Regions from separate parts of the Homo sapiens genome. Here region 1 is linked to region 2. The links come from fine-mapping of genetic effects on gene expression. A gene starts in region 2. The other region holds a variant in brackets. All regions are shown on one strand. Distances are from middle to middle.

Region 1 (4,394 bases), 20 kb after region 2:
AAAAAAAAAAAGTTAGTAGCACTGTTACTAAAAACCGACAGATGGGAAGTTTTTAATACTACATTTGTTACCGTCATACCTTTCATGACGAGAAAATTAAAAATGTTCAATTATATTACCTTTGTTCATCCAACCTTGTTTTCTGTTTCTATTAAAGGTACCTCTTAGCATAAATAAAGTTTGAAAAAGTTCCTCTCCTGAGAGAACTGGATTCTGATATTCTGTCTTTTTATCTGAATGCTCTTTTATGGGTGTGTTTCATATGGAAATTTATCGAGTTTTGCACTTACGATATGTTCACTTTTCTGAGTGATGCTTCAAAAATAAGTTTACATTAAATTTTTAAGAGCAGCCCCAAATTTGAGTACAATGAGATTCATTAAGAAGTCATGTTTGGCCAGGCGTAGTGGCTCACGCCTGTAATCCCAACACTTTGGGAAACTGAGGTGGGTGGATCACGAGGTCAGGAGTTCAAGACCATCCTGGCCAAGATGGTGAAACCCGATCTCTACTAAAAATACAAAAATTAGCTGGGTGCAATGGCAGGCACCTGTAATCCCAGCTACTCTGGAGGCTGAGGCAGGAGAATCGCTTGAACCCAGGAGGTGGAGGTTGCAGTGAGCCGAGATTGCACCACAGCACTCCAGCCTGGGTGACAGAGTGAGACTCTGTCTCAAAAAAAAAAAAAAAAAAAAAAAAGAAGTCATGTTCAACTTTTGCAATACTTTTGTGATTTTCTAATTTCTTAGGCATTCACATAAAAAAGGATGCTAAAATAACAGAATGTGATAGATGGGTCCAGATCATATACATAATGTATTAAAATGTTTGACAACTTCTGTCTATTGAGGTTTAATACAAGCCTAGCTTTCAGTCCAAATACAGGTTTTCTGACATCATTTTCTACCACTTTTCTCAGAGTTCCCGATTTTGAAATGCTGGGCTCACTCAGAAGTGGCAGCCCCTTGTGCTTTGGAGAATGAGGATATCTGCCAATGGAACAAGATGAAGTATAAATCAGTAAGCTAATGTTTTATGTTGTTTTTTAGATCATGTGCCTCATTTAAAGCTCTTTCTGTAATGTTCCTGCCACATTTAAGAGATTAGCATTTTTTTTTTTTTTTAGGCGGAGTCTCGCTCTGTCACCCAGGCTGGAGTGCAGTGGCACAATCTCGGCTCACTGCAGCCTCCGCCTACCAGGTTCAAGTGATTCTCCTGCCTCAGCCTCCCAAGTAGCTGGGATTCTAGGTGCCCGCCACCACACCCAGCTAATTTTTGTAGTTTTGGTAGAGGCAGGGTTTCACCCTGTTGGCCAGGCTGGTCTCAAACTCCTGACTTTAGGTGATCCGCCTATCTTGGCCTCCCAGAGTGCTGGGATTACAGGCATGAGCCACCGTGCCCAGCTGGGATTAGCATTTTCTAATATAGAAAGCTGTTTTTTCTTACAGCAAAGGGTTACTACAAAGCACTGCTGTTTTTTGTTGGGGAACTTTCATTGAACATACAGTTGGGAAGATGGATGACTCTGCAATCTTATGCAGTGTAGAGTTGTTTTTGAGTAGGTTGCCATTGCCATATGGTACCTGAAAATTTTTCTCAAACTCTAAAATACATCTGGAGACCTGCATTTGATTGATTATGTCAATGAAGAGTATGCTTAGTGTTTATGATTTATTGATTTAGCAAATTAGTGTGTATTGCTACAAGATAAGTAGTGACCCTTTTAAAACATTTTGAATTCAGTTGTCCTTATTTATTTATTTATTTATTTTGAGACAGAGTCTCGCTCTGTTGCCCAGGCTGGAGTGCAGTGGTGCAATCTTGGCTCACTGCAACCTCCGCCTCCCTGTTCAATCAGTTCTCCTGTCTCAGCCTCCCGAGTAGCTGGGACTATAGGCGCCTGCCACCATGCCCGGCTAATTTTTGTATTTTTAGTAGAGACGGGGTTTCACCTTGTTGGTCAGGCTGGTCTCAAACTCCTGACTTCAGGTGATCCACCCCCGTCAGCCTCCCAAAGTGCTGGGATTACAGGCGTGAGCCACCACACCTGACTTCAGTTGCCTTTAAAATTCTGTAACTTGCCATAAGAGGTCATAATAATTTAACACTTTAAATATAGCTTTTAACTATATGTATATATTATTTATATATATATATATATATATATATATATATATATATATATTTTATTTTATTTTATTTTTTTTTTTATTTTATTTTTTTTTTTGAGACGGAGTCTCGCTCTGTTGCCCAGGCTGGAGTGCAGTGGCACGATCTCGGCTCACCACAACCTCCGCCTCCCGGGTTCAAGTCATTCTCCTGCCTCAGCCTCCTGAGTAGCTGGGACTATAGGCACGTGCCACCATGCCTGGATAATTTTTGTATTTTTAGTAGAGACAGGGTTTCACTGTGTTGGCCAGGCTGGTCTCAAACTCCTGACCTCATGATCCGCCT[G/A]CCTCAGCCTCCCAAAGTGCTGGGATTACAGGCATGAGCCACTGCACCCGGCCAACTTTATATATATTTCATCTTCATATATACCAGAAAAATAGGTGGCCATTACTAAGGTGGTATTCCATCCCAAGGATTGTTGAAGATGTCATTTTTTTGAATGACGGTTTTCAGATAGCACTTTGTTGCAGATTGGGTTGGTTACTTGTATTTTTTGGGGTGTGAAATCATAATTCAGGTATTTACAAAAAGAAAAAGTATTCCCAAGTTACGTACATTTTAATGTTTTTTAAAACTTATTTTTAAAGTATAAACTTTCCCAGTGTTTTTCATTGAACTTTATCTTCAAAACCAAATAGAAAATAGAAACTGAGTTGAATGTAGGAGCTTTTCCATTGCTAGTCATAGTAAAGGCCACATCCAGCTGTACAATATGGGAATAACAAGGCTTTAAAAGCTATCTGGGGAGAGAAAGGCAAATGGGAATGAAAGAATAATTTAGTTTTTTGTTGTTTTAATGTTTTTCCTCTAAGTCTTCAATTTAGAGAGAATTCTGTATTCTAATTTGAAACATGGTAAGAGGAAGTAAATGTTTATATTGATTACAGAGGTGACACTGGGATATAGCTTTTCTTAAAATAATATACTTTATGTAAAAAGCAGAAAAATCAGAACTAATGAGATTTAACAAATTATTGTGGGAATTGAGTCTGATTCTGTAACATTAAATGAAATGTTAGATTCAAAAGTCATTCAAACCAATAATATTACATGTAGTGTAGCACTGGCTGAAATATATTTAAAAGAAAAAGGAAATAAAAATATCCAATTAAAAATCAAAGAAATAGTGGTCTCACCTTATGACATTTATTTTATTTTACTATTTTTATTTATTTATTTATTTATTTGAGACAGAGTCTTCCTCTGTCTCCCAGGCTGGAGTACAGTGGCACGATCTCAGCTCACTGCAAACCTCCGCCTCCCGGGTTCAAGTGATTGTTCTGTCTTAGCCTCCCTAGTAGCTGGGACTACAGGCACCTGCCACCACACCTGGCTAATTTTTGTATTTTTAGTAGAGATGGTTTAGTAGAGATGTTGGCCAGGCTGGTTTTGAACTCCTGACCTCAAGCGATCTGCCCGCCTTGGCCTCCCGAAGTGCTGGGATTACAGGCATGAGCTACCACACCGGGCCCATGACATGCATTTTCAATGTCTAACTTCTCTCTCTCTCTCCATAGGTATATAAGAATGTGATTCTACAAGTTCCAGTGGGACTGACTGTACATACCTCTCTAGTATGTTCTGTGACTCTGCTCATTACAATCCTGTGCTCTACATTGATCCTTGTAGCAGTTTTCAAATATGGCCATTTTTCCCTATAAGTTTTATGTAGTTAAATGCTTCCTAGAAACCTAAATAAGATCTATTAATTTCTGACGAGAGGTGTTCTTCTAGAATTAATTACTTTTATCTTTTGTCTTCATTTGTGGCCAAAATTATGTTTACTAGAGGAAATTTGGGATCATTCTCAGCTAATTCCAAAATGTAGTGCTCTATTGCATGGATCCTTGGTAATCCTCAAGCATCAGATGCCATAAGGGGAAACTTAATTCTGCTAAATTAATGTTTATTTTGTGAGAAGTGACTTTATCTTCATTTGGGGTAGAAAAATTATTTCTTTATGTAGTAGAGACAAATTATTCTCATTTTGCAAGTACTTTCAATTTAAGCTACAAATTGAGAAAACCGTTATAAATAAGAATAAAATAGGCCAGGCACAGTGGCTCACACCTGTAATCCCAGCACTTTGGGAGGCCGAGGTGGGCGGATCACCAGAGGTCAAGAGTTTGAGACCAGCTTGGTGAAACCCTGTCTCTACTAAAAATACAAAAGTTAGCTGGGGCTGGTGGTGGGCATCTGTAGTCCCAGCTAATTGGAAGGGTGAG
Region 2 (4,394 bases):
GGCCAAGGCAGGAGAATCACTTGAACCTGGGAGGCGGAGGTTGCAGTGAGCTGAGATGGTACCACTGCACTCCAGCATGGGTGACAAGAGCAAGACTCCATCTCAAAAAGATGGAGGCAGGTGTGGTGGCTCAGGCCTGTAATCCCAACACTTTGGGAGGCCAAGGAGAGGAGATACCTTGAGGCCAGGAGTTTGAGACCAGCCTGGGCAACACAGCGAGACCATGCATGTCTCTACAAAAAATTTAAAAATTGGCCAGGCATGGCAGCATGCACCTGTAGTCCCAGCCACACCAAAGGCCAAGGTGGGAGAATCGCCTGAACCCAGGAGTTTGGGGCTGCAGTGAGTTGAGATGGTGCCACTGCACAACAGCCTCTCCAAAGCATGATACGCCTATTCTTAAAAAAAAAAAAAAAAAAAAAAAAAACTACTTTAAAAAATTACTGTGCTCTACCTCTAATCTGATGCAATGAGCTCACACCATTTCTCCTTCTTTTCCTTCTCTTTTCTTGCTTTTTTTTTTTTTTTAACGAATACTATTCCCAATTCACCTAACTAAAATTTGATGTTAGTAAACTACAACCTACGGGGCACATATAAACTCCACACACTGAAGCAATGGCTGTACTCGTCAAAGATGTATGCAGTTGGTACTCAAATAATGTAGTTTTTTTTTTACTAGACTCTTTTTAAAATTTAACTTTAATTTTTGCTAAAGTAATGTTTGTATTTGGAATATAAAATAATTCTATGAGGCTTATAACAACAAACTATCGTCCTTGGCCCTACTCCTCTTCATAGGGAGCCAGACTGAATTTTAAAAGGCATATCTTCCAAAATTTCTCTCTCCATTTCTTAAGAAACATGCTTATACTACCATTTTCAGTTTTTTTTTTTCTTTTGAAACAGAGTCTCCCTCTGTCGCCTAGGCTGCAGTGCAGTGGCGTGATCTCCCCTCGCTGCAACCTCCGCCTCCTGGGTTCAAGCGATTCTCGTGCCTCAGCCTCCCGAGTAGCTGGAATTACAGGTGCCTACCACCATGCCCAGCTAATCTTTGTATTTTCAGTAGAGACGGGGTTTCGCCATCTTGGCCAGGCTGGTCTCGAACTCCTGACCTCAGGTGATTCGCCCAAAGTGCTGGGGCTATAGGCGTGAGCCACCTGCCCGGCTATTTTCAGTTTTGGATAGTATGTTTTGACATACACTCTGTTTCCTCTTTGAGACACCCGCTCTAGAGCCCTCTATTCCACTCCAAGCCGCCTGGATGCTCTCTTGGCCTGCTTACAGATTCCACTCTGTTTAGGAAGAAGGACGGCACGTTTATCCAATTATTCTTCCTGGACACGAATACTCCTCTCCCCAGAGATCAGTAACTGCCCACAATCTTGTTAGGAAGCCCCACAGCACCTAAGGGTACGAATGTCCCCAAAGAGTAGACGATTCTCTCCCTACTCACGTCTCCACTAGTGCAAGGCTGGCTTTCTTACCCTTAGAGGAATACAGAAATGACATCGTCTGCAGGCCAACGTCTAAACAACCAGGAGTGGGTTTTTCCACCCAACCGCAGTGCACGCAAAGCCCCTAAGCCGACTGTGAGACCGGGCGGAGCCTGGCGCTGCAGGAAGAGGCGACAGCCACAGCCCTACTGACGAGCCCGAGGGGTGAACTCCCCGGCGGGAGGCCCGAACCCTCAAACACCGGGAAGCGGAGGTGGGGGCCGGCTGGGGGACCGGTCCACCGGCTCCCACCTCGGCGTACAGGGATTCCAGGTCCCGGCGAGCGCTGGCCTAGCGGTTTCCACAGCGACAGGCCGGGCGCGCGTCCCCGCGCGTGCGCAGCTCCTCGCCCGCCCCCGGGTGGGCGGAGCAAGGAACAGCTGGGCGGGGACGACCGCCCCACGCCGCGCGGGAACCCTTGGGGGCCGGGGCTGCAGGCAGCTGGGAACCGCGGGCGCTAGGCGCGCGCACCCAGCACTCGGTCCCAGCCGATAAATCTGGGGCAGCGCGCGGTAGGAGCTGCGGGCGGCCAGGCCCCTTCCTGCGTCCGCACCTGGCCCCGCGCGCCCCTCTCGGGCGTCCGGCTTCCGGCGTCCTGGCGGCTCGGGTGGCGGCGGTTCGGGCGGCCGCCTGGCTGCTCCTCGGGGCGGCGACCGGGCTCACGCGCGGGCCCGCCGCGGCCTTCACCGCCGCGCGCTCTGACGCCGGTAAGGGGGGCGGGGCTTGGGGGGCCAGAGCGTGGGAGCGGTCCCGGCTCCCGGGCCTCTCGGCGGGTTGCGGGGATGTGGGGACCCGGCGCGGGACCTAGATCAGTAGGGCGAGCCGGAGGAGGTCAGACACTAGAGCCGTGTGCCCTCCTTCCCTCCCGTGCGCTTTGCTCTGCGGCGGATCCCGGGTCTCCGGGAGAGTCGGGCTCGGGCCCTGCGGTTCCCAGGCTGGACTGGCCGCCCTGTTACTAAAGTTCTGAGAAGGAAAGTCAGCCGTCAAGCGTCTTGGGATGCTCTTGAGCTGCACGAAGCTTCTGATCACCAAGGGGCCAGGCAAGGCCTTAGCGCCCTGTGAGGCCTGAGAATCCCCAAACTGAATGTAGGACTCCGTGGCAAACTGCTAGTTGTTCGTGCAAGTAGTAGTTGGCAAACTGCTTGTACTACTGAGACGGGCAAGTGCGGGAATAATTACAATAAAGGGTAAGGTTTGATGGGAGGAAAGCACAAACCCTACAAGTTTCTCCATCTGTAAAATGAGGATGTTTCTGTCATCCTTGGTATCATTTAGATCCGTTTAGTATCTGTCAATCAGTGCAGTTCTGCTTGTGTGTTTACATATTGGGTTTTCAAGTTTATCTAAACAAAGGATTATGAGGCCAAGAAGATTTTTTTTTTGAGATGGAGTCTCACTCTGTTGCCAGGCTGGAGTGCAATGGCGCGATCTCGGCTCACTGCAACCTCCGCCTTTCCCAAGTTCAAGCAATTCTTCTGCTTCAGCCTCCCAAGTAGCTGGGATTATTACAGGTGCCCGCCACCATGCCCAGCTAATTTTTTGTATTTTTAGTAGAGACGGGGTTTCGCCGTATTGGTCAAGCTGGTCTTGAACTCCTGACCTCAGGTGGTCCACCCTCCTCAGCCTCCCAAAGTGCCAGGATTACAGGTGTGAACTACCATGCTCGGCCAGAAGAATTTTTAAACAGTTGGATTTGGTAATCTGTAGAGGCTTCCAACGTTAGCATTTTATAATTGAAAAGGGGTCAAAATTAGCGGGGCGTGATGGCGTGCCCCTGTAGTCCCAGCTACTCAGGGGGCTAAGGCAGGAGAATCGCTTGAACTAGGGAGGCGGAGGTTGCAGTGAGCCGAGATCGCGCCATTGCACTCCAGCCTGGGTGACAGAGGGAGACTCTGTCTCAAAAAAAAAAAAAAAAAGGAAAAAGAAGTCAATTTCCAGAGCCAGTTCACCACTACCAAAGTAATAGTTAAGAGGAAAAATGTTGAAGGTAAATTCACATTCAACAAATTCGTTTTAAAAATGGTACTTTTGCCTTTAAAATCATGACATTCTAGTATTTGCTGTACTATTTGTAAATTAGCCTTTCTCCGGTCCCAATGATCAACTGCTGTCTGGTGTACATACCAGTAGAATTTAAGCCTGTTCATAATTTTTCTTCTAATTTAATTTATAGTTGGATAGCAGTCCTCACTTCCCACCCTACCCCCATTAAAATTAAACAGGATGAAGAAAGATCTGGATTTGTGCTGGGCACAGTGGCTCACACCTGAAATTCTAACACATTGGGAGGCTGAGGTGGAAGGATTGCTTGAGGCCAAGAGTTCAAGACCAGCCTGGAAAACATAGCAAGACCCTGTCTCTGCAAAAAAATTTAAAAGTAGCCAGGTGTGGTGGCGTGGGCCTATAATCCTAGCTACTTGGGAGGCCGATGTGGGAGGATTGCTTGAGCTCAGAAGTTCAAGGCTGCAGTGAGCTGTGATCATGCCACTGCATTCCAGCTTGTGTGACAGAGTAAGGCCCTGTCTCTTTTTTTTTTTTTTTTTTTGAGACGGAGTCTTGCTCTCTTGCCAGGCTAGTGCAGTGGCGCAATCTCGGCTTATTGCAACCTTCACCTCCCAGGTTCAAGCGATTCTCCTGCCTCAGCCTCCCAAGTAGCGGGAACTACAGGTGCACACCACGACGCCCGGCTAATTTTTTGTATTTTAGTAAAGACGGGGTTTCACCATGTTGGCCAGGTTGGTCTTAAACTGTTGACCTTGTGATCTGCCTGCCTCCCCCTCCCAAAGTGCTGGGATTACAGGCATGAGTCACTGCACCCAGGCTATTTGTTCTTTTTTTTAAGAGGCAGAGCCTTGCTCGGCTGGGCGCTGTGGCCCATGCCTGTAATCCCAGCATTTT

Evidence for each region. PIP is the estimated chance that this variant, and not a neighbour inherited with it, causes the effect.
Region 1: its variant is the best candidate, but not a certain one, in a credible set for the expression of CEP19 in whole blood (INTERVAL, PIP 0.54).

What each region holds. Positions count from the first base shown.
Region 1 is chr3:196,730,073-196,734,466 of GRCh38, forward strand. PIGX (phosphatidylinositol glycan anchor biosynthesis class X) reads left to right here. Exons shown (of 6, transcript NM_017861.4): 5 at 920-1,020; 6 at 3,687-4,394. The coding sequence ends at 3,830. Among named protein-coding and RNA genes, the nearest start is that of PAK2, 7.6 kb to the right of the region's middle. The variant G/A (reference allele first, on the strand shown) is at 2,455.
Region 2 is chr3:196,710,442-196,714,835 of GRCh38, forward strand. It overlaps CEP19 (centrosomal protein 19), which reads right to left and starts at 1,809. Exons shown (of 3, transcript NM_032898.5): 1 at 1,488-1,809. PIGX (phosphatidylinositol glycan anchor biosynthesis class X) reads left to right here and starts at 1,936. Exons shown (of 6, transcript NM_017861.4): 1 at 1,936-2,203. The coding sequence starts at 2,092. RefSeq lists silencers at 1,559-1,871, 1,706-2,335.